3 separate regions of the Homo sapiens genome follow, and regions 1 and 2 are each linked to region 3. The links come from fine-mapping of genetic effects on gene expression. A gene starts in region 3. Each other region holds a variant in brackets. All regions are shown on one strand. Distances are from middle to middle.

Region 1 (8,235 bases), 130 kb before region 3:
CCAGGGACTCGTATTTCTCCACCAGGCGCTCTGCCTCCATGGCATGGTCCAGCACCTGGGAGGCAGAAGACAGGGACGTGACAGTCCCAGCCACAGGGTCCCTGGCCCAGTCCTGCAGCTCCACCCTGCCCTTGCACTAGGGCAGTAAGACCCCTCAGCCGGGCCTCCTCTGGCCTTTATGCCTACTGCCCATGGACAGTACCTTGCCAATTCTCTTGCCTTCCACGGCCAGGGCCTTCATCTTGGAGAAGTAATGGTAGTAAGTAGCCACATAGGTAATGATTGACTTCTCATCTGGCTGGTCCACATTCACGTCTGCAAGAGAGGACCATTTGGGTCAGGCCTCCCAGAAGTTCATCCATAACTTGCATCACTTACCCCAAACCCTGGGCCTGCCCAGTCCTCCAAGGCTGACATCTCTCCATCTCCTTTTAGAGCAAAATGACAACTTACCCATTCAAATGAAAAGGGCACCAAAAAGCTCATCTTTTTTTCCCCTTCTCCTGGAAACAAGAAGGGCCCTCCAAGCAGAGCACAAACCCCAGAAGCACAAGGAAGCTTTTACCCAGAGTTCCCCGTGGAGACCAAAATCAGTTGTTTGGGGAAGAAAAGCAAGAAAAGAAACAGCATTGCTATGTGGGGATGGATCATGGACTTTTAGGCTAGAATAATGTTTAAGAAGTCAATGGATTGAGGGGCAGTGGGACGGAAGGTATGAACTAAGCCTCCTGAACCTAGGATGCTCAGATCGATGGGCCCTGTGATCCCTGCAGCTCAGTGGGGACAGAGGCCAGCTCTCAGCACCATCTCCAGGTGTGATCACGCCGTTTCTAACCTCAATCCTAAAGCTCAGCTGTGGGCCCAAGGAGGGGAGTGTCTTTCAAGCCGAATTGGCTTCCAGCGCACAACTGAGGCTGACCATAACTTGAAATCTGTGGGTTCTTTTAAATAGGCCAGATTTTATCCTAAAGGTAAGACTATGAGACCAGAAGCCTCTTGCCTATTTCTGGAAATACATGGGCAGGCAGGAGCCACTGAAGTCATCTCGGAAAGTTACAGAATGCTTAGCTTTATTTCCAGGTTCTGAATTACAGCCATGCTACCCAGAGGCTCTCCAAGGAGCACTGCATGAAGCCTATGTCTGTTGCTAGCTCGCTGACACTTGTCATTCTGCAGTAAAAAGGCCCAGGTGATAGGGCTACAGGTAGAATGGAAAACAGGGAGAAAATGGCCAAGACCAGTGAACATCCACCCAGTGAACTTAAGGAGCACCTCCAGCAGGCGAGCCTTTCTCTCCTCCCTGTTCTGGTTGCACCAAGATTGGTCTCCACTTTCCCAGAGGCAGCGGAGGAAACAGGCTCTGGAGCCAGGCTGCCTGAACGCCAATCTCAGCTCCATCTGCCGGAGGACCTGGGCAAGTTGCTTACCCATTATAGGCCCCCATCTTCTCTTCCATAAACTGAGGATAACAACAGTACTGATTTCAAAGGGGTGTTGTGAAGATTAAAACACATCAAGTGCAGAACCAGGTATCAAATAAGAGCCTAATCGCAGTCAGGCGCGGGGGCTCACACCTGTTATCACAGCGCATTGGGAGGCCGAGGTGGGCGGACCACGAGGTCAGGAGTTAGAGACCAGCCTGACCAACATGGTGAAACCCTGTCTCTACTAAAAATACAAAAATTAGCCGGGCGTGGTGGGATGCGCCTGTAATCTCAGCTACTCAAGAGGCTGAGGCAGGAGAATTGCTTGAACCCAGGAGGCGGAGGTTGCAGTGAGCCGAGATCGCGCCATTGCACTCCAGTCTGGGCAACAGAGTGAGACTCCGTCTCAAAAAAAAAAAAAAGAGCCCAGTGGCTGTTACTGATCTCATCGATCTCATCGGCATTATGACCAGAACCACAGGAACCAATCAGCAAGGTCAGCTGACTACAGGCCAGTTCTGGGTGAGAGTGGAAGGTCATGCAGCTTAATTTTTTTTCTTAAAAATTTGTTTTAAAAAAATAGAGATGGGTCTCGCTGTTGCCCAAGCTGGAGTACTGTGGCTATTGACAGGTGTGATCCCACTACTGATCAGTGTGGGAGTTTTGACCTGCTCCATTCTGACCTGGACTGGTTCAGTCCTCCTTAGGTAACCTGCTGGTCCCCTGCTCCCAGGAGGTCACCAGTGCTGAATTTAGTGTAGATATCCAATCAGCATAACCCACTGCAGCCTAGAACTCCTGGGCTCAAGTGATCCTCTCGCCTCAGCCTCACTAGCAGCTAGGACTATAGGCAGGTACCACCGTGGCCAGCAACATGTAGCTTAATTTAGAATCCTAGAATTTCAGAAGAGCCCTTAGAGACCAATTCTCTCTTTTAAGACATGAGGAAACTGAGCCACAGAGAGGCTAGCCACTGGCTGTATGTCACAGAGCTCCTCTGTGCTCTGCCTGGGACACAACCCACAGTCCAGGGCTCTTTCTGTCACTGGGCTGCCTTTCTTCCTACCTACAGTCTTTTGTTAAAAAAAAAAAAAACCTGAGAAATGATTGTCACACCATAAAATTCAACCTTTCAATGTATATAATTCAGTGGTTTTCAGTGTAAAGATATATATTTTTTTTGGGGGGGAGGGGTAGTCATGGGGTCTCACTATGTTGCCCAGGCTGGTACCAAACTCCTAGGCTCAAGTGATCCTCCTGCCTTGGCCTCCCAAAGTGCTGGGTGTGAGCAACCACGTGTTTTTCAGTATATTTACAAGGTTGTGTAACCATCACCACTTTCTAATTCCAGAACATTCTCTTCCCCCACCAAAGAAGCCCCTGTATCAGTTGGTGGTTACTCCATGTCTTCCCCCTCCGCAGCCCCTGGCAACCACTGGTCCACCTCCTGTCTCTACCCTACCACCTCTTTTTCACATAGCTCTGGCCCCACCTTCGGGATCCAGCAGCTTGGTAAGTCCCAGTTCCTTTTCAGCCAGATTGAATGCATTCTGCAGATTATAGTGTGCATTACACTTCTTCAGAGACTCAAAATCCAGCAGGTCTGGCCTGGGTGGGGAGGCAAGACAGAAGGGATCAGAAACATGTGAGATCTCGAAGAGGAAGAGGAAACCCACACCAATCTTTATCCCTAAGTCACCGACCCAATTTTGTCCAGAAGTAGGCATCCCAAACCCACACTGCTGCTCACAGCCCCTCCCCACACCACCTCCCCTGCTTCCCATCACAAGTGCTCTGCGCAGCCCTGCACCCCCATGTTCTGGTTCTGCTCCGAGTGCTATTCCTTCCGTCTGACTGCTGTGCAGCTCATCTCATCTCTGTCTCCACATGTGCACCCCAGGTCATTAGCCGACCCAGCAGCTCTGCTGCGTTTGCTAACCCCATCTTCTCACCGGTGTTTATGCACGATGGCGTTGAAAGCTAGTCCATCTCTCCAGCTGGTGGTGAAGTTGTGTACATTGAC[G/A]TTGGGATAACTATAAACAGAGATTCAGAAAATGGTGAGTAGGGCTGAGCTCTGTTCTATGACTCCAGGGCAGTCACCAGCTCATGGTTCCTGGAGCCCAGCACAGCCTGGGGGTCACTGACCCTCCAGTGCCACACGCCCAGGGTGTCCTCACCCTGCAGTCTTCATCTGGCACCACAGAAGCAGGGCATCCTTGGCTGACTTCTTCTCCTTGTTGTCTTCTGTCTCCACACTGATGTCTTGGATCTAGGAAGGAAGCAAGCAGGGCCCTCAGTCCCTGGACAGGAACTCCTGGTGTTATCAGAGATGCTCAGATAAATGGCAGGAAACTGCTCTTTAGACTGTGGTAATGGGGTGGACAGGCATAGCCTGAGGTCCTTTCAACCTAGGCCAGGGACCACAAAACACTGGGTGCAAGGGATTTGAGGCAGCAGATTAGGGTAGGATGCTGAAGAATGGGTGTGTCTGAGTGGAGGGTGCTGGTCCCTCCAGGTGGGGAACTGCAGGCAGAAGAGTGAACATTTTCTGAGAGCTGGCTCTCCAAGGTCTCTAAAAGCTGGCTCTCCAAGGTGAAGCCGACAGAACCCGGGAAGGAAGGGGGTGATCAGGAACGCTGTGATGGCATGAGGACACTGGGGCATGAGGAGGAGGAGGGTGACTGTTCCATTGGGGGAGGCAGGCAGAGTTTATGGCAGGGAATTGGTGCCAGTGACCAGACCCTCTAGAAGTTCCCAAATCCCTGTGGTGAAGGACCAGTTGGTAAAACTTCCAGTCTCCTGTGGACCAACCTGTGGTCCTGGTCCCATTGCACACGACCAACACACAGACCAGAACACAGGGAATTTGCCACAGGGGTGTGACATTCACCCAAGCTGGTTTCTACCCTGCTGAAAGAGGGGAGTCCACTGATCTGGTGCTTGGATAGCGCCGCCATGGCAGCTGCTACATAAGGTTCTAGATCCTCCATCTTTGTGTTTGTTGTGTCATGGGCCAGCAGGAACGGCTTGCGGTGCAGAGCCAGGGCAGGAACCACACCCTGTGTGACAGTGTGCTGGGGTACCTGGAATCGAAGGATGATGGTCCAGACCAGCCCAAGGGTCAGTCGGTGGTTTCCGTCCACAATGTCATGGGAGCCCATGTTTTCCAAGTGCACTTTCTGCTCCTTGAGGAACTGCAGTGCCTTGTCCACGTTCTCCAGGCAGTGGATCCGCATGCGGCCCTTTGTAGGCTTTGGCTGTGGAGGGACGGGGGCAAAATGGCACGGGACTGTGGGCTTCCACCTTCTTCCCCAGCCTTCACAGGGCCCAGCTTTGCACACCTTCCCCATGACCTACCTCAGGAACACAGACAGGCACAGCCCCAGGGCTGGAGCCAAAGCTGAGCTTACAGATGAGGCTTGGGCAGATTAAGATTCCCAAGGGAATTAATTGCACCCAGAGTAGGTGGGAAAAGAAATGTTTTCAATGGGGCCACTGTTCCTGTCTCCATGAAGCAATGCTCCTATGTAATCTAAGTGGCAAAGGCACTTGAAATGAACCCATCCTCTGAGCAGAGGGAGCCACTGCTTCCCGCCCTGTGCCGTCACTCTCTCTGAGGGCTGTTCTTCCAGCTGGTCCCCTTGGACACTTTTCTAAGGCCCCCCCACTTCCCTTCATGACCACAGCTCACCAGTATCTCTCCCGAGAGCACCTCGAGGAGCCTCAGCAGGTTGCGTCCGTCCCGGAGGTCGCTGTACAGGTCCCCCACCCGGCACGTGACCCGGGCCAGGTGCGAGTTTACCCACTTGGTGAAGGTTTTCTTCTGCACAGCTTCTCGTTCATCTGTGGTGGCAACATGGGTTTATTTCTGTCCCTCGAGTTCAGTATGCCTGCTTCTAAACACCAGTTGGCAGGGGTGGGGGATGGAGAAGCCTGAGAGATGGGAAGCGGGGTCCTCTAAGGAGGAGGAAGGGAAGGAAGATGACCGGGAGGAAAGCCCGTAACTTGCAATGAGCTCATAAGCAAGGTAAAGAAGAAAGATGAAAGACAGAAAATAGGCGAAGGTTGGGTGTGGTGGCTCATGCCTGTAATCCCAGCACTTTGGGAAGCCAAGGCGGGCGGATCACAAGGTCAGGAGATCGAGACCATCCTGGCTAACACGGTGAAACCCCGTCTCTACTAAAATTACAAAAAATTAGCCGGGCATAGTGGCGGGCGCCTGTAGTCCCAGCTACTCGGGAGGCTGAGGCAGACTGACGTGAACCTGGGAGGGGGAGCTTGCAGGGAGCCGAGATTGTGCCACTGCACTCCAGCCTGGGCGACAGAGCAAGACTCCGTCTCAAAAAAAAAAAAGAAAAGAAAAGAAAAGAAAATAGGCTTTGAGAAGAAAGGATGAAGACCTTTCATCCTCAGAAACCATGGGACATGCAGGGAGGGGCTGGGATGGGGCAGTCGTGGAAGCAGTGGAATGCTGGTCAAGTGACTTCATTCATCAGAGCCCCAATGTCTCATCTGTAAAATGGGAACATCACTTTCTACTTCAACAGGTCATTGTGTTGATTAAATGAGATAAGGTATATAAAACAACTAGTTGGTGCCTGGCACAAAATGGCTCCTTGGTGAGCTGCTGTTATAAAGTGGTGTGATCTGGCCCGAAGGAGAGCAAGAGCTGCCCAGGCCGGTGGGAGGTATGGCTGTTCTCTTTTGGTTGCAGACAAAGGAGAAGGTGTGGGCTAAAATTATTGCAGCGGCTCTTCCAAGCGGTCATTAGGACTTGATGGTATAGAGGCTGCAGGCCTCCTGAGTCAGCTTACTGTCCTTGGATAACTTAAAGAAAAGGCAGGCTCCTCTGCTTCTGGGGGTTGGGGACAGTACATTCAGCTGGCTGCAAGGGGATCCAGTTCCAGGACATAAACACCCCATTGCTTAGAAGAACAAGATGTTGAGAGTTGGGAACTGGGAAAACAGTGAGGCCAGGAAACATGGGGGAAAAAAAGCCAGGCAGAGTTAGGTACCAATCTCAAAAAAAAGTTAGGCAATGCCCTGCTGCCCAGCCCACAGGGGAGGGGAGCTACTGAAGAGGGGAAGTAAATACTAGGTTCCGTAGGAAAATAAAAATTAAGAACGTTCTAAGTGACAAAGTGAAAGCATCAGAAACTGCTCTGGTGATGAGGATTTCTGCCACTTTCCCACAGAGAGCCCTGTGCAAGGACCCAACCCAAGTGGCTGGGGTCTGAAGAGTCACTTTTGCTTCCGTCTCAGCACCAGCATCTCAGAAACCGGAAAGACTCATCCCTTAATCTCACATTCCTAAGCACCTCACCCATAAGACACAGCAACACACCCACGTCGCTCCGTGTCTTTCACCTCCAGCCACTATACTGGCACCAAACCTGGGGTCCTAATAACATGGGACGGCCCCATGCTCCCCAGCACCCATGAAACCAAGGTGCCTTGGGGCCTCCCGGCAGGTCTACAGGCCCCATCTGAGCCAGGAGGAGCGTGGGTCACAGGCCATTGCTGGATCCAGGGGCACTGCCCTACTGCTGGGCACCCTGGGGTGAGGCCATTTTGGCACACAGTCAGAAGACACAGAATTAGTGGCAACTAGGAGGAAAATGGGCAAAGCCAAGCACCAGAAACCAAGTGTCACGTCACAAGACGCCCACAGCATCCCTAGATCCTTACACACACACACACAACAGTGATTCCCAAAAACACACCTAAGCACTTGTGCCAGAGTGAACACACACCTGCGCAGACATCTACCTGGGCCTGTTTGCACAGATCCTCTCCTTCGAGACACTCCCTTTGCTTCCACACACACTGCCCCCGTGTACACATTCAGACACACGCTCAGAGGCCTGGAAAACACAATCTCCAGGTCCCTGGGCCTGGCTCACCCCTCCGCCTCCCCTAACTGTCCTGGCCAGCGCTCCACCGCCAGATCCGGATCCACCTCAGAGGCACTGCTGGCGCCTCCCCAGGTGCTGGCACCCCCACGCCCTCCATGGCTAGTTGCCTTTGCTCCATGCAGCACCCCAAGGCCCGGCAGTCACACCCACCCATGCCATCATACACGGTCCCTGCCAGCAGGTCCAAGCCTTTCCCCATTCCGTTGACATCTGTGTATTTTCCGGCCTCTTGTAATTATCCCCTCTAAGCTGCATCACGTTGTCTCCCAACACAAACACTGGAGTCACACTGTGTCCTGTGCCAGGTCCTCAGCTCCGGCCACTCTCCCCACACCCAGGTCCCTCTCGCCCAGGCACAGTCGTCCCCACAGGGGGCCCCCGGGCCTCACCTTGCAGCTGTTTGAAGCGTCCTTCCAGCACGCTGGCATACTGAGCAGGGTTGATGAAAGCAGCTGGTGAAAGCAGGAGGCCCCCGGGGTTGTGGGCCCCTTCCACAGCCTCATAGTAAAACTCGCTGGCCTCATGCAGGCCGTTCCCGTGCACCCTGCTCACTCCGTTCCCATTCATGCTGCCAGCTGCTAGTTACAGAGCCCAGGGCCCAGAGTCCATGCTCCCCGCTGGCAGGGGGCCAGTTTCTGTTCCCCAGTGGAACCTCAGGCTGGAGTCCAGCGTCAGGGGATTCAAGAATGGTGGGAATTTCAAGGAGTGGCAAAAAGAGTTACGGGGTGTCCCGAACTCCTGAGACAGAGAGTGGGGGCACGCCTGGCTGCGGTGAGAGGAGACAGGCGGCTCCAGACAAACAGGTTGGACAGTGTTGGGGAGGGGAGAGAGGCGGAGTGTGGCCGGCGGGGGCAGGGCCAGGCCCTGCGGGGCGGCGGAGGAGGGCACTGCCAGCG
Region 2 (8,000 bases), 190 kb before region 3:
AATTAGGTTACCATGTGGCGAATACAAAGATGAATAGGGCATTGTGCCTGTCCTCACTGTGCCTCCACAAGCTGCTGCTTGTCTGGGCCTTGGGTGTACAAATAACTGGTATGTCCTTGGAAGTCAGTTCGGGGTGGGAATGGTCATACTATTTTGTATTGATGACATGTGCCTCGGCCTGATTCTGCATGGGTCAAAGGACCTGTGAGGGCAGTTTTCAGGGTGATCTTGGAATTTAACTTGATGTTAACCCTGTTAACTTTGCCTTTAAAGTTTTCCAGCCAGGCGTGGTGGCTCAACGCCTGTAATCCCAGCACTTTGGGAGGCCAAGGCAGGCAGATCACCTGAGGTCGGGAGTTCAAGACCAGCCTGTCAAACATGGGGAAACCCCATCTCTACTAAAAACACAAAAAATTAGCCGGGCATGGTGGTGGGCACCTGTAATCCCATCTGCTTGGGAGGCTGAGGCAGAAGAATTGCTTGAAGCTGGGAGGAGGAGGTTGCAGTGAGCTGAGATTGCGCCATTGAACTCCAGCCTGGGCAACGAGAGTGAAAGTCTGTCTTAATAATAATAGGCCAGGCGCGGTGGCCCACGCCTGTATTCCCAGCGCTTTGGGAGGCCGAGGTGGGCGGATCACGAGGTCAGGAGATCAAGACCATCCTGGCTAACAAGGTGAAACTCCATCTCTACTAAAAATATAAAAAGTTAGCCGGGCGTGGTGGTGGGCACCTGTAGTCCCAGCTACTTGGGAGGCTGAGGCAGGAGAATGGCATGAACCCGGGAGGTGGAGCTTGCAGTGAGCTGAGATTGCGCCACTGCACTCCAGCCGGGGCAACAGAGCTAGACTCCGTCTCAAAATAAGTAAAATAATAATAATAAATTTAAAAATGAGCCGGTCATGCTACTCAGGAGGCTGAGATGGGAGGATTGCTTGATGCCAGGGGCGGATGTTGCAGTGAGCAGAGATGGCATCACTGGACTCCATCCTGGGTGACAGTGGGATCCTGTCTCAAAAGTTTCCCAGGCATCCTCAAAATTGGGGTTGTTTTGGGTGAATGCTAAATTAAACCAGGCTCCTTACCCTAGAGCTACACATCAGTACTAAAGTAGACTCGGGGGGGGATGGAGTAGTGAGAGTGAGATCATTGATCATTGGCACTAGTATTAAGTGCTGTTTCAAATTACCCAGGTCAGTTTGCTCTCAGTACTTGTGTGTTCTTACACATGATCTCATTCTGAGGTAAAGGAAATTCCCAGGATGATGGTGATGGGAAGTCCCAGGACTCCCTTTCTGCAGTGGATTTGGAGAACAGTAGTCCAGGTTGTAGCAAGAGAAAGTACTTTTTTTTTTTTTTTTGAGGCGGAGTCTTGCTCTGTCACCCAGGTTGGAGTGCAGTGGCACTATCTCGGCTCACTGCATGCTCCACCTCCCGGGTTCACGCCATTCTCCTGCCTCACCATCCAGAGTAACTGGGACTACAGGCGCCCGCCACCACACCTGGCTAATTTTTTTGTATTTTTAGTAGAGACAGGGTTTCACCGTGTTAGCCAGGATGGTCTCGATCTCCTGACCTCTTGATCCGCCTGCCTCGGCCTCCCAAAGTGCTGGGATTACAGGCGTGAGCCACCATGCCCCGCCAACAGGAGGATTTTTTTAGTCCGTTTGAGGTGCTGTAACAAAAGACCGTAAGACTGGATGGCTTATACACAACAGAATTTTATTTCTCACAGTTTCGGAGGCTGGGAAAGCTGAGATCAAGGCCGTGGCAGACGTGGTGTCTGGATTCTGTCTTGAGTTTGCAAGGCAGGAAGGGTGAGGGATTTCTCTGGAGTTTCTTTTATATAAGGGCACAAATCCCATTGATGAGGGCTCTGTTCTATGGCATAATCACCTCTCAAAAGTGTACCTAATACTTTCACTATGGGGATTCAGATTTTAACATGAATTTTGGGGGGACATAAACACTCAAAACTATAGCAAGATTCAACTGTGTGTGATATTTACCTAGTTATGATCGTAGCAGCTCTGAATATTAAAATAATAATCTGATGAAGTGGCGATGGGTGGGTAATACGTATAAGAGCAAAACTCATAGAAATGAAAAAATTTTTTTTTTTTGGTCACCCAGGCTGGAGCGCAGTGGTGCAGTCTCGGCTCACTGCAACCTCTGCCTCCCGGGTTCACACCATTCTCCTGCCTCAGCCTCCCAAGTAGCTGGGACTACAGGCACCCTCCACCACGCCCGGCTAATTTTTTTGTATTTTTAGTAGAGACGGGGTTTCACCGTGTTAACCAGGATGGTCTCGATCTCCTGACCTCTTGATCCGCCTGCCTTGGCCTCCCAAAGCGCTGGGATTACAGGCGTGAGCCACCACACCTGGCTGAAATGAGGAAATTTTTAAAAGTGGCAAATGGATTATGAACATCTTATTCAGAAATAAAGGTAAAAAACAGCTAAAATGGCAAAAGCAGTTGGGTTCTGGGGAAGGTGGGGCCAGGGGACTTTTTGAAGCCTTAATATTTGCTTTGTTAAACCATGTTCTTGCATTATTAAGTTGTGTCATGCTAAGAACTCTATTTTGTCAAGCCAGATTATGATGGCTTAACATGAGTGAACCTTCCAGCTTCTCATGAGATGCAAATCTGACAGGAATAGGGACTCGTGTTACTTTATGGCAGGTAAATAGCACCCTTCAGATACAAAATTGGGTTGGTTTCGGGCGTGGTGGCGCATGTCGTAGTCTCAGCTACTACAGAGGCTGAGGTGCAAAGATTGAGCACAGGAGTTCCAAGGCCAGCCTGGCCAACCTAGTGAGACCTGACCTGTCTGAAACATACAACCCCACCCGCACCCCCACCAAAACAGGGATGGTGCTTCCTGTCCCTTAAGGAGACAAGACACCAAAGGAGAAAGTACGTAGCTAGTGATGAGTGAATTGAGCATTGTATTACTGCTCTCATTTTTGTCTTAAGTTGTCACAACTAACAGGGAGGCTGAGTACTCTGTCCACTGGGAGCTGGTGGTTCCATTGAGGGTTGTGTGTGCCTGCTGGTTTGAGTTCCTCTGTCCAACATCAGAATTGTTTGTATTCAGATATGCAACAAGATGGGACTTCTCAGTTTCACAACGTAAGGAAGATTGACACCAAACTGAGTTTGGGGCTTCCTTTGTACAGTTGACCATTGAACAACAAGGGTTTGAACTGTGCAGGTTCACTAATACATGGATTTTCTTCTGCCTCTGCCGCCCCTGAGACAGCCAGACCAACCCCTCCTCCTACTTTTCCTCAGCCTACTCAACATGAATACTATCAGGATGAACACCTTTATGATGATTCACTTCTACTTAATGATTTTTTTTTTTTTTTTTGAGAGGGAGTCTTGCTTTGTCACCCAGGCTGGAGTGCAGTGATGCGATCTCGGCTCACTGCAACCTCTGCTTCTTGGGTCCAAGCAAATCTCCTGTCTCAGCCTTCCGAGTAGCTGGGACTATAGGCACATGCCACCACGCCCAGCTTACTTTTGTATTTTTAGTAGAGACAGGGTTTCACCATATTGGTGAGGCTGTTCTCGAACTCTTGACCTCAGGTGATCCACCTGCCTTGGCCTCCCAAAGTGTTGGGATTACAGGTGTGACCCACCGCGCCCAACCTTTTCTTTAGCTTTTATTGTAAGAATACAGTATACATATAACACACAAAATATGTTAATTGACATATGACCTGTAAGGCTTCCAGTCAACAGCAGGCTACTAAGTTTTGGGAAGTCAAAAATTATACATGGGTTTTCTTTTTTCTCTTTTTTTTTTTCTTTTTTTTTTCTGAGACAGAGTCCTGCTCTGTCGCCCAGGATAGGGACTCACACTTTGAATATATGCCTCAATTAAAAAGGCAAAAAATAAGCAGGGCACAATGGCATGCACCTGTAGTCTCAGGTACTTGGAAGGCCGAGGTGCAAGGATCGCTTGAGCAGCCCAGGAGTTCAAGTCCAGCATGGACAACAGCAAGACCCTCTCTAAAAATATTACTTATTTTAGAGACAAGGTCTTGCTCTGTCATCCAGGCTAGAGTGCCATGGTGTTATCTATCTCACTGCAGCCGTAGCTCGCAGGCCCAAATGATCCTCCCGTCTCAGCCTCCCAAGTACTTAGGACTACAGGCATATGCCACCAAATCCTACTATTAGAAGAATTTTATTTTTGGCCGGGCGTGGTGGCTCACACCTGTAATCCCAGCACTTTGGGAGGCTGAGGCGGGCGGATCATGAGGTCAGGAAATCGAGACCATCCTGGCTAACATGGTGAAACCCTGTCTCTACTAAAAATACAAAAAAAAAAATTAGCTGGGCGTGGTGGCGGGCGCCTGTAGTCCCAGCTATTCGGGAGGCTGAGACAGGAGAATGGCGTGAACCCGGGAGGCAGAGCTTGCAGCGAGTCGAGATAGTGCCACTGCAGTCCGGCCTGGGTGACAGAGTGAGACTCCATCTCAAAAAAAAAATTTTTTTTATTTTTGAGACAAGGTCTCACTTTGTCCTCTAGGCTGGAGTGCTGTGGTGCAAACATGTCTGACTGCAATCTTGATCTCCCAGGCTGAAGCTATCCTCTCGCCTCAGCCTCCTGGGTAGCTGGGACTACAGGCACGCACCACCACGCCCAGCTCAGTTTTGATTAATTTTGTTTTTTTTTTTTTTTTAGAGGCAAGGTTTTCCCATTTTGCCCAGCCTAGTCTTGAACTCCTGCGCTTAAGTGATCATCCTGCCTCAGCCT[A/C]CCAAAGTGGTGGGATTACAGGTGTGAGCCACTGTGCCCAGCCTACAGATAATTTCTTTTTATTTTTTGAGATGGAGTCTCCCTACGTCGCCCAGGCTGGAGTCCAGTGGCGCCATTTCGGCTCACTACAACGTCCGCCTCCCAGGTTCAAGTGATTCTTCTCCCTCAGCCTCCTGAGTAGCTAGGATTACAGGCGCATACCACCACGCCCAGCTAAATTTTTTTTTTGAGATGGAGTTTTGCTCTTGTTGCCCAGGCTGGAGTGCAGTGGCATGATCTCGGCTCACTGCAACCTCTGCCTCCTAGGTTCAAGCGATTCTCCTGCCTCAGCATCCTCAGTAGCTGGGATTACAGGCATGCACCACCACGCCTGGCTAATTTTTGTATTTTTAGTAGGGATGGTGTTTCACCATGTTGGCCCTGCTGGTTTCGAACTCCTGACTTCAGGTGATCCACCCGCTTTGGCCTCCCAAAGTGTTGAGATTACAGGCATGAGCCACTGCACTCGGCACTTCTTTTCTTTTTTTTTTTTTGAGACAGGGTCTCACTCTGTCACCCAGACTGCAGTGCAGTGGGGTGATCTTGGCTCACTGCAACCTCCACCTCCCAGTCTCAGTTGGTCCTCCTACCCCAGCCTCCCGAGTAGCTGAGACTACAGGCATGCCACTACATCCCACTCGTATTTCTTGTAGATACAGGGTTTCGCTATGTTGCCTACGGTGCTCTTGAACTCCTGGGCTCAAGCGATTCTCACCTCGGCCTCCCAAAGTGCTGGGATTATAGGAATGAGCCATTGCACCCGGCCTGGGCCTCTTTTAAAAAAGTGAGATTTGAGCAATGAGTTGAATTAGATGTAAGTTAGCAACAGGTATCTGGGGGAAAAGTACGCCAGGTAGAGAGAATATCTTGAGCAAGGGTCTTAAGGTGGGAGTGTTCTAACAGTAAGGAGGCCAGTGGCAAAAGAGTGAGTGGGAGGAGAGAGGAGCAGAAGAGGTCAGGTAGTTAGCAGATCTAGTAGTTAATCTTCTAGGGCCTTTCTGGCCTTCACTCTGAGTCAACTAGTCTTGTAGGTTTTTAAGCAGTGTCATAATGTGATTACTTTTTTAAAAAATCAGCTTTTCTGAGTTTTTTTTTTAAACACCCTTTCAACCCAGTTTTTCCTGACTCTGGGAAGAACCAGGAAGAGACGGCCCTGAAGTATTCTTTTTTTTTTTAGATGGAGTTTTGCTTTTGTTGCCCAGGCTGGAGTGCAATGGTGCAATCTCAGCTCACCACAACCTCCGCCTCGCGGGTTCGAGTGATTCTCCTTCCTCAGCCTCCTGAGTAGCTGGGATTACAGGTGCCCGCCACCATGCCCGGCTAATTTTGTATTTTTTTTTTTAGGCGGAGTCTCGCTCTGTCACCCAGGCTGGAGTGCAGTGGCACAATCTCAGCTCACTGCAAGCTCTACCTCCTGGGTTCACGCCATTCTCCCACCTCAGCCTCTGAAGTAGCTGGGACTACAGGCACCTGCCACCACGCCTGGCTAATTTTGTTTTTGTATTTTTAGTAGAGACAGGGTTTCACTGTGTTGGCCAGGATGGTCTCGATCTCATGACCTTGTGATCCACCCGCCTCGGCCTCCCAAAGTGCTGGGATTACAGGTGTGAGCCACCGTGCCTGGCCTAATTTTCTATTTTTTTAGTAGAGACGGGGATTCTCCATGTCAGTCAGACTGGTCTCGAACTCCCAGCCTCAGTTGATCTGCTCACCTTGGCCTCCCAAAATGCTGAGGTTACAGGCATGAGCCACTATGCCCGGCCTGAAGTATTATTTTCAAACAATAAAATATACCAATTTTGAAAACAATTTGACACATTGTGACAATGTACTTTTTTGGGGGGCCTTTTGTTTTGTTTTTTAAAAAGATGGTGTCTCACTCTATTGCCCAGGCTGGAGTGCAGTGACATGATCTCGGTTCACTGCAATCTCCACCTCCCGGGTTCAAGCGATTTTTGTGCCTCAGCCTTTTGAGTAACTGGGATTATAGATGCATGCCACCATGTCCAGCTAATTTTTATATTTTTAGCAGAGACGGAGTTTCACCATGTTGGCCAGGCTGGTCTTGAACTCCTGACCTTAGGTGATCCACCACCTTGGCCGCCCAAAGTGCTGGGATTATAGGCACAGTCGTGAGCCACCATGCCCAGTTTGACAATGTACTGGTAATTTTGGTAACTGATGGTTACAATCTTGTTCCCATTGTTGCAATCAAAATACAGAACATTTTTGTCAGCCAAAAAGCCCTTGTGCCCCTTTGTAGTTAATCCTCAGCCCCTGATCAATTTTTTAGTCTTTTTTTTTTTTTTTTTTTTTTTTTAGGTGCGGTCTTGCTCTGTTGCCTAGGCTGGAGTACAGTGGTATGAGTATGGCTCAATGCAGCCTCAACCTTCTGAGCTGAAGCGGTCTTCCCATCTCAACCTTCCAAGTAGCTGGAACTACAGAGGTATGCACCATTGCACCTGGCTAATTTATTTTTTATTTTTATCTTTTGGTAGAGATGGGGTCTCCCTATGTTGCCCAGGCTGGTTAGGAACTCCTGGCTCAAGCTATACTCTTGTCTCAGCCTTCCAGACTACTAAGATTAGGCCGGGCGCGGTGGCTCACACCTGTAATCCCGGCACTTTGGGAGGCCGAGGGGGTGGATCACTTGAGGTCAGGAGCTCGAGAGCAGCCTGGCCGACATGATGAAACCCCGTCTCTACTAAAAATGTAAAATATTAGCCAGTTGTCGTGGTGCGCACCTGTAGTCCCAGCTACTTGGGAGGCTGAGGCAGAAGAATCACTTGAACCCGGGAGGTGGAGGGTGCAGTGAGATGAGATAGCGCCACTGCACTCTAGCCTGGGCGACAGAGCAAGATTCCATCTCAAAAAAAAAAAAAAAAAAAAAAAAAATTATAGGCATGAGCCACCTCGCCTGCCCCCTCCCCCACCTTTTTTTTGAGACAGGGTCTTCCTATGTCACCCAGGCTGGAGTGCCGTGTTCAACCTCCACCTCCTCCCGGGCTCAAGCAATTCTCTCACCTCAGCCTCCCGAGTAGCTGGGACCACTGGCGCATGCCAGCATGCCCAACTAATTTCTGTATTTTGTAGTTGTGGTTTTGCCATGTTGCCCAGGCTGGTCTTGAACTCCTGAGCTCTAGCCATTTGCCTGCCTCAGCCTCCCAAAGTGCTGGGATTACAGGCGTGAGCCA
Region 3 (8,262 bases):
TCAAGGCAGCAGCAGGTCTTCCCTCCCCAAGATGTTAGGACAGGACTAGAAATTTGTATTAAAGTCTGTGCAGTTACAGATAGCTGCACATGATGGGGTGGGGGTAGGTAATACGCAGATTCAGGGCCCTGAATTTTATTTTATTTTTATTTTTTTGAGACAGAGTCTCACCTCTGTCGCCCAGGCTGGAGTGCAGTGGCGCCATCTCGGCTCACTGCAAGCTCCGCCTCCCGGGTTCACACCATTCTCCTGCCTCAGCCTCCCGAGTAGCTGGGACCACAGGCGCCCGCCATCACGCCCGGCTAAATTTTTGTATTTTTAGTAGAGACGGGGTTTCACCGTGTTAGCCAGGATGGTCTCGATCTCCTGACCTTGTGATCCGCCTGCCTTGGCCTCCCAAAGTGCTGGGATTACAGGCGTGAGCCACCGCGCCCGGCCTGGCACCATGTCACTCTTAATGTGTGTTATGGGAAAGTGTCAGTGCGTGGGTTGTGATTGCAATTATACTGAAGTCTTTTCTCCATACATGTCTCCTGCAGTGCTTAAACAGCCTTCCCAGCCCACAGCAGCAGGGGTACAGCAGCTCTCACATTCAGTCACTAGCAGAGATGCCAGGTACTATTCTGAGCTTTTAAAATGTACTAATGCTCTTAGTTCTCAAAACTATCCTAGGAGCTATAGGTACTGTTATTAACTCTCATTTTGCATATGAGGAAATTGAGGCCCACAGATATCAATAAACTTACCCAAGGCTACACAGCCAGTAAATGACAGAGCAAGAATTCAAACCCAGGCAGCCTAGCTCTGCTGTCTCTGGAAGAGCCGAATTAGCAGGGATGCCCTCCTACAGATCCTGAGTCCTTCAGATAAAACAGTATCTGGGTCAAGGGAAGCTGGGGATCGTGACGTCAGCACCTATGCTTGGTTGGTAAATCCCTCTTTCTAGGGTCACAACCACAACACATACGCGTTTATGCTTAGGCCTAAGATGTGTCCCTGAAATCACTGTCAACTGAACCATGTTTTAAATGTTGTGGGGGCTGTTGCTACTGAAAAGAACCCTGCTGTGAACGCTTGTACAAAGCAAAGAATCTATTTTTATAAATTTAGATCTGGAGATTTTAAAAAATGCAAATATGATACATACAATTCAGTATTTATGCAGTCAGAAGAGACAAAGGAATAAGTATCTTCCCATACAAGGAAAAAAATTAACATTTAATTCAGTACCTTCTGTGGACCCTGGGGAGATGCTGGGGTCTTCCACAGCCTTATCTCATTTAGTCTTTACAGTGCCCTTCTGGGGGCAGGGGGAGGCATGGATCCTAACAAACTAGAGGACCCAGGCTCAGGTGAGGCAGAACGCTTAGCAGGAGGTAATGACTTTCAGTTTGCCGCCTCCAAAGCCCATGTTTTCTCCAGTGTGCAACATGAGCTTTAAAATCTAGGTGTTTATAATCTGGTGGAACCCCTGGAGGATGGCTTGGGCTGTTCTGTCCTACAGACCTGTGGCTCTCAGCATCCATTCTACGCCTCACATGGGCAGCCCTGCTGAAGAAAATCACCAAACTGTGTGTTGATGCCACCATCCATTGGTGGTCCACTCACTCAGGAGCCTTTGGTTTGTCAGTCCTTCCCCCTGCCTTTCTGGCCTTTGTCCCTCAGTGGCTACTCCATTCTTTAAAAAATCTACCCAGTCTCTGCCTCCTGCTTCATACTTACGGATCTCTTTTCTCAGTAAACTCACCCAACTTGCACCCTCCCACTGCAGAACCTCATCAGTGTGGGGACCCATTTCCTCCAGGCTCACAGTGGGATCGTCCCTTCTGCTTTCTTGGGACCTGCTTGCATCAGTTATCACTGCTGCACCTTCAGCCTTCCCCTGAGTTCCTTTCCCTCAGCAGGTCAAGCTCTCATTTCATCAGAAGAAAATCTCCCGTGACCTTGAACTTCCTCCACTTATCCTCAACCTCTCTCCCTCACATCTCAGCCAAGGATCTCAAAACCACAAGCTGCATGCACCCTGTCTCCCTTTCTTCCTCTCATTCTCTCCCTCACTTAGGGTACTTGCTTTTTCTGTGGCCTCTGAAACTTCTCTCCTCAGGGAAGGCCTCTTAATTACCAAATTTTGCATTTACCTTCATTGTATCTGAACTATGTGCAAAATTTGGCACTGTAAGGCTATGACTCGCCTGGTTTTTCCCTCCCTGGGCTTTTCTCTTCATCTACTTTCCTCTGGTCATGCCTAAATAGTGCTCATCCTGCTCTCCCACCCAGCTATCTTCCATCCCAACTGTTGACCACTGCCTCTGGGCTCAAGACTCTCAAATTGGTATGACCAGCCAAGGCCTCTGCTGAGTGCCAGCTGGGAGATTCATTTGCTCACTAGGCAGCTCCTCGTGGAGGTCCCATTGGTACCTCAGTTTCCTCTCTCCTGACTAAAGAGACTTTTAGTCTGTTTCATGATTAATCCAATTTATCACATCTGAAATCTTGGATTCATTCAAGAGGCCTCTCATTTTTTTTTTTTTTTTTTTTTTTTGAGACAGAGTCTCCCTCTGTTGCCCAGACTGGAGTGCAGTGGCGTGATCTCGGCTCACTGCAACCTCCCTGCCTCCCAAGTTCAAGTGATTCTCTTGCCTCAGCCTCTGAGTAGTTGGGATTACAGGCGCCCACCACCATGCCCAGCTAATTTTTGTATTTTTAGTAGAGACGGGGTTTCACCATGTTGGCCAAGCTGGTCTCAATCTCCTGACCTCGTGATCTGCCCGCCTCGGCCCCCCAAAGTGCTGGGATTACAGGCATGAGCCACCGCGCCCGGCCAAGAGGCCTCTCCCACATCCAGGCGCTCACAAAGGCCTATCACTTAGGCCTGATGAACACTTCTGATTCCTGGTGACGCCTCTATCTCCACTGTCTTTACTTGTTATTGGGCTCTTAAGGTCTTCCTGTCTCTAGTTTGATCTAAGCCACACCTTTGAAAGAACGATCTTTCTGAAGTACAAAATTACCAATATATTTCACCAGTGCTTAAAACTCTTTATTGGCTTCCTGTCTTCTACAGATGAAAATCTGTTTCTAGCCAGGCAAGGTGGTGTGTGCCTTTAGTCCCAGTTACTCGAGAGGATGAGGCCGGGAGTTCAAAGCTGCAGTGAGCTACAATCACGCCACTGCACTCCAGCCTAGGTGACAGGCGAGACCTCATCTTTAAAAAGTAAAAATTTACATAGGAAGTTGTTTTATGCCTTTGCATAAGGTTTGTGTTAACTTTCAGCAAGAAATTCCCTTTCTCTCCCTTGTCTGGCATATCACTCTTCATCCTTCAAAACCCAGCTCTGGGGCAGGAGTGGTGACTTATGCCTGTAATACCGTCACTTTGGGGAGCTGGGGCGGGAGGACAGCTTGAGACTAGCCTGGGCAACACGGTGAGACCCCTGTCTCTACAAGTAAAAAAAATTAGCCGGTGTGGTGGCATGCGCCTGTGGTTCCTGGTACTCTGGAAGCTGAAGCTGAGGCAGTAGGATCGCTTGAGCCCAGGAGGTCGAGGCTGCAGTGAGCCAGGACTGAGCCACTGCACTCCAGCCTGGGCAACAGAGCAAGACCTTGTCTCAAAAAAACAAAAGGTCAGCTCAGGTATCTCCTCATGGAAACCCTTCTTCACATCCAGAGGTGGTCGGCTTCCTTCTCTATTCTAACCCTGGGCTTTGTACACAGGTCTGCATCCCCTCCTAGCATCTGTGAGCTTCTCTCAGGGAAAAGCTCATTGATCTGCATCCCCAAGACCTGCTGGGGAAGAATCTATCCATCTAAACTCGCTTTAATTTGACAAATGAATCAGTTAAGAGTAGGAAAGCTGCCTATGGGCACTGCTCAATGCAACGTGAGCAACAAAGGGAGACAGAACTGAGGCCAGAAAGGTGAGGGGGGACAGAGGCTGGCAGGGAGGGGAGCTTGTCAGTGCAGACTCCAGGAAGAATCTATACAGAAAGTTACTGAGCGGCCTGAGTCCCCCAAGTGAGGGCTCGGGACAATCTCCCGCCTGGGTGAGAGAATAGGGAGACCCTGAAACGTCTCTGCAGCCTCGGGCTGCTCCAGAAGCGCCCACAGCTGCAGGGTTTTGGTGTGGATGGGACCTGCTGACAGGGATGCGGTGGGAAGAGCCCCTCGGCGCCCGTTCTCCCAGGCTTCCCCTTGGCCAAGGGTGCTCCTAGCACAGGGCCATGAAAGTAAGATGAAGAGGCTTGTTTTTCTCCTAGATACCAGCGGGCAAGCAGAAAACAAGAGGCTCAAGAGGGGCAGCCCCCGCATAGAGGAGATGCGAGCTCTGCGCTCTGCCAGGGCCCCGAGCCCGTCAGAGGCCGCCCCGCGCCGCCCGGAAGCCACCGCGGCCCCCCTCACTCCTAGAGGAAGGGAGCACCGCGAGGCTCACGGCAGGGCCCTGGCGCCGGGCAGGGCGAGCCTCGGAAGCCGCCTGGAGGTAACTGGGCGAGGGCCGCGCAGGGAAGGGCTCAGCAGGAGGTGCAGGCCACGGGCCGCTGCTGAGAGGTCCTCACCCCGGGCCCCCTTGTTCCCGCAGGACGTGCTGTGGCTGCAGGAGGTCTCCAACCTGTCAGAGTGGCTGAGTCCCAGCCCTGGGCCCTGAGCCGGGTCCCCTTCCGCAAGCGCCCACCGATCCGGAGGCTGCGGGCAGCCGTTATCCCGTGGTTTAATAAAGCTGCCGCGCGCTCACCAAGTCCTCTTCCGCGTCTGCTTCCGCGTCGGGCCCGGGCGGGGCGGGGCGGGGCGTGGAGCCGCGCCGCGGCCTGACGTCACCCACACCTCCCTGGGACTGCGTCACTGGTGCGCGCCGCGGGTCAGGGCGCAATGGCGGCGCTGGGCGGGGATGGGCTGCGACTGCTGTCGGTGTCGCGGCCGGAGCGGCCGCCCGAGTCGGCGGCGCTGGGCGGCCTGGGCCCCGGGCTGTGCTGCTGGGTGTCAGTGTTCTCCTGCCTCAGCCTCGCCTGCTCCTACGTGGGCAGCCTCTACGTCTGGAAGAGCGAACTGCCCAGGTGCGGGGGCTGCGCGCGACCGGAATCCGCGCCCTGCGGGCGGAGCTTGGGCGAGCCGGGGGCGGGTCCGTGCTCATGGGCAGCCGCGGGCCCCCTGAACTTACTGTCCCCTCCGTAGGGACCATCCCGCGGTCATCAAGCGACGCTTCACCAGCGTCCTGGTGGTGTCCAGTCTCTCACCCCTGTGCGTGCTGCTCTGGAGGGAACTCACAGGCATCCAGGTGCGAAGGAGGCGGGGCAAAGGGCAACGGCGGTGAGAGCTCAGGGGTCTTTAGGGGAGGAAGCAAAACTGATGCCCCCTTTCCTGTGGCTCAGCCAGGCACATCCCTGCTCACCCTGATGGGCTTCAGGCTGGAGGGCATTTTCCCAGCGGCGCTGCTGCCCCTGTTGCTGACCATGGTGAGTGCTCCTGCTGTATTTTTTCTTCTGGTCTTTGTTATCAGCCTGATGGGCAGTGCCGTGGACTCTTGTTTTTGGTTTTTGGTTGATGGGAGACAGGACTTTTGAGATGGCCCCAGGGTCCTCCGGTATGCATGGTCTGGAAATCGTGGCTGGAGAGGATTTCAAGCTTGGAGTCTCAGGGAGCATGGGCAAAGGTCTGGGCAAAAGCGGTGGGTTATGGTGAAAGTGTTTTCTTGCCCTCAGATTCTTTTCCTGGGCCCACTGATGCAGCTCTCTATGGATTGCCCTTGTGACCTGGCAGATGGGCTGAAGGTTGTCCTGGGTGAGTCTTAAAGGCTGAAGGGAAAAGTAGGCACAGGCAGTCCAGGACATTGGGGCAGGGAGTCAGCGGGCTCAGGGTGTGATCTGGACACGTGAAATGTCATCTCTCTGGGTGTGTTTTCTCATCAGTAAAATGGAAACATAGAGCTAGGTGGCCTCTAAGGGTTGATTGCCAACGTCCAAGGAGTTCCCTGGGAACCCCCAGCAGTATTTGGTGTGGATCAGAGAGCACTGTCCCCTGCTTCCCCAACCAGAGCTAGTCTTGCTTAAATTTTGGTGTCTCCAGAGTTTACTTCCAGGATGCCCTTGCCTCAGCTAATGCCTTCCATTCAGGTCATCTCAAGACATTGGGTTTATGTTGGGTCCACACCCCCGTCCTCAGCAGTATTGATGCCTAACCTGAGTTTGGCCAGGGTAAAGTTGTGGGAGAGGAGCCCTTGGAGCCTCTGGGGTCTCACTGTCTGACAGCCCGTCACTCACAGCTTGTCCTGAATTCCCTCTGCAGCCCCCCGCTCCTGGGCCCGCTGCCTCACAGACATGCGTTGGCTGCGGAACCAAGTGATCGCCCCGCTGACAGAGGAGCTGGTGTTCCGGGCCTGTATGCTGCCCATGTTAGCACCGTGCATGGGCCTGGGCCCTGCTGTGTTCACCTGCCCGCTCTTTTTTGGAGTTGGTGAGTCTGGCCAGATTAGTCCTGGTGTGTTTTCAGCATGAGAGCTCAGAAGGGGGCTTGAGGTGAGGGGCAGTCCTAGAAGGGAGGCTGGGAGGAATGACTGTGATGTGATTGTCACCTTTTTCCCAGCCCATTTTCACCATATTATTGAGCAGCTGCGTTTCCGCCAGAGCAGCGTGGGGAACATCTTCTTGTCTGCTGGTGAGTCCTGGCTAGCTGGCCTGGGTTAGGGTGTATGATGATGTCGCTAATGGCCACTCTGGAGAAGGAATTGGGAACTGAGGGCCACAGTATTGGAGAGGCCACTGACCGTGGGAAGTTGGGGTGCAGGACAGCTGTAGGTGGTGGGGCAGGCAGCTACTGCCCCGGGGGGAGGGGATGGTCGGTCTTTGGCTGATGGGTATGTAGTGTGGGGGCAGGAAGGGCGTGCAGGTGTGGTCACTCGTGGCCTCCCCGTCTCCAGCGTTCCAGTTCTCCTACACAGCTGTCTTCGGTGCCTACACTGCTTTCCTCTTCATCCGCACAGGTTGGTCCTCAGTCCCTCATGGGTCCCTGGGGGCCCACAGGAGCGGGTGGGAGAATGGGAATACTGTTTGTTCTAGGAACAAAAGTTCTTCTACTCCAGTCCTTGAGACAGGCTGAGCCAGAGCCCTCAGCCTGGTGAGGTCTGAGAGGTGGAAAGGAGCAGAGGCCGTGGTGTGTGGGTGGATGGCTGGGGTAGTGGGATCTTGATCTCCTGTTTCAGGGGATGAGGGTCACTAGCCCTGGAAGGGCCAGAGGAGGTGGTAGGGCTGCTCCCTGAGCTGCTGTCTCTTTTCCCCAGGACACCTGATTGGGCCGGTTCTCTGCCATTCCTTCTGCAATTACATGGGTTTCCCAGCTGTTTGCGCGGCCTTGGAGCACCCACAGAGGCGGCCCCTGCTGGCAGGCTATGCCCTGGGTGTGGGACTCTTCCTGCTTCTGCTCCAGCCCCTCACGGACCCCAAGCTCTACGGCAGCCTTCCCCTTTGTGTGCTTTTGGAGCGGGCAGGGGACTCAGAGGCTCCCCTGTGCTCCTGACCTATGCTCCTGGATACGCTATGAACTCTCACCGGCTCCCCAGCCCTCCCCACCAAGGGGTACTGCAGGGGAAGGGCTGGCTGGGGTCCCCGAGATCTCAGGAATTTTTGTAGGGGATTGAAGCCAGAGCTAGTTGCGTCCCAGGGACCAAGAGAAAGAAGCAGATATCCAAAGGGTGCAGCCCCTTTTGAAAGGGGTGTTTACGAGCAGCTGTGAGTGAGGGGACAAGGGGCAGGTCCCAGGAGCCACACACTCCCTTCCTCACTTTGGACTGCTGCTTCTCTTAGCTCCTCTGCCTCTGAAAAGCTGCTCGGGGTTTTTTATTTATAAAACCTCTCCCCACCCCCCACCCCCCAACTTCCTGGGTTTTCTCATTGTCTTTTTGCATCAGTACTTTGTATTGGGATATTAAAGAGATTTAACTTGGGTAACATGGCCTTGGGCCTTTGGGAATCGGTCTATTTGGGATCTTGTGTGAAGACTCTAGGCAGCTCTTGGGAGTGTGCCCACCACCTGTCCCAGCTACCTTGAACACTGACATCTGGGCGGTGCATCCAGGCGGGTAGTTCCCTGGAGTACAGGATGGGCTGGGAGCTCTGGTTGCTGGGAGCCTGTGGCTTCCTCCTTCCTGAACCATGCCCCAAAGTCCTAGTGTGGTTGGCTCTGAGACTGCAGGTACCAGGTGTGAGCCCAGCTCATCCTGGGGCCTGTGCCTTGGCTGACGGGTCAGGGAGTGGGAACCATGGCCCTGGCCCTGAC

Direction of the effects. Alleles are on the strand shown, and positions count from the first base shown. SD is a standard deviation of normalised expression in the study named. Not every link is listed here.
For the expression in cerebral cortex of the gene that starts at base 4,849 in region 3, A is the low allele of the variant in region 2 and C is the other (small effect, 0.35 SD a copy in GTEx).

Evidence for each region. PIP is the estimated chance that this variant, and not a neighbour inherited with it, causes the effect. A credible set is the group of variants that fine-mapping cannot tell apart.
Region 1: its variant is the best candidate, but not a certain one, in a credible set for the expression of RCE1 in blood mononuclear cells (TOPMed, PIP 0.71).
Region 2: its variant is the best candidate, but not a certain one, in a credible set for the expression of RCE1 in cerebral cortex (GTEx, PIP 0.63).

What each region holds. Positions count from the first base shown.
Region 1 is chr11:66,710,715-66,718,949 of GRCh38, forward strand. It overlaps SPTBN2 (spectrin beta, non-erythrocytic 2), which reads right to left. Exons shown (of 38, transcript NM_006946.4): 4 at 5,116-5,267; 5 at 4,508-4,681; 6 at 3,602-3,693; 7 at 3,377-3,457; 8 at 2,917-3,032; 9 at 203-315; 10 at 1-55. It also overlaps the pseudogene RN7SL12P. Among named protein-coding and RNA genes, the nearest start is that of SPTBN2, 14 kb to the right of the region's middle. The variant G/A (reference allele first, on the strand shown) is at 3,448.
Region 2 is chr11:66,650,008-66,658,007 of GRCh38, forward strand. It overlaps a transcript of RBM4 not described here. Among named protein-coding and RNA genes, the nearest start is that of RBM4, 15 kb to the left of the region's middle. The variant A/C (reference allele first, on the strand shown) is at 4,768.
Region 3 is chr11:66,838,593-66,846,854 of GRCh38, forward strand. RCE1 (Ras converting CAAX endopeptidase 1) reads left to right here and starts at 4,849. Exons shown (of 8, transcript NM_005133.3): 1 at 4,849-5,048; 2 at 5,167-5,269; 3 at 5,364-5,447; 4 at 5,694-5,772; 5 at 6,277-6,444; 6 at 6,574-6,645; 7 at 6,908-6,970; 8 at 7,268-7,960. The coding sequence starts at 4,864. The coding sequence ends at 7,503. It overlaps TOP6BL (TOP6B like initiator of meiotic double strand breaks), which reads left to right. Exons shown (of 15, transcript NM_001302084.2): 14 at 4,257-4,477; 15 at 4,577-4,924. The coding sequence ends at 4,642. RefSeq lists silencers at 3,046-3,172, 4,390-4,529, 4,640-5,079 and an enhancer at 4,720-5,426.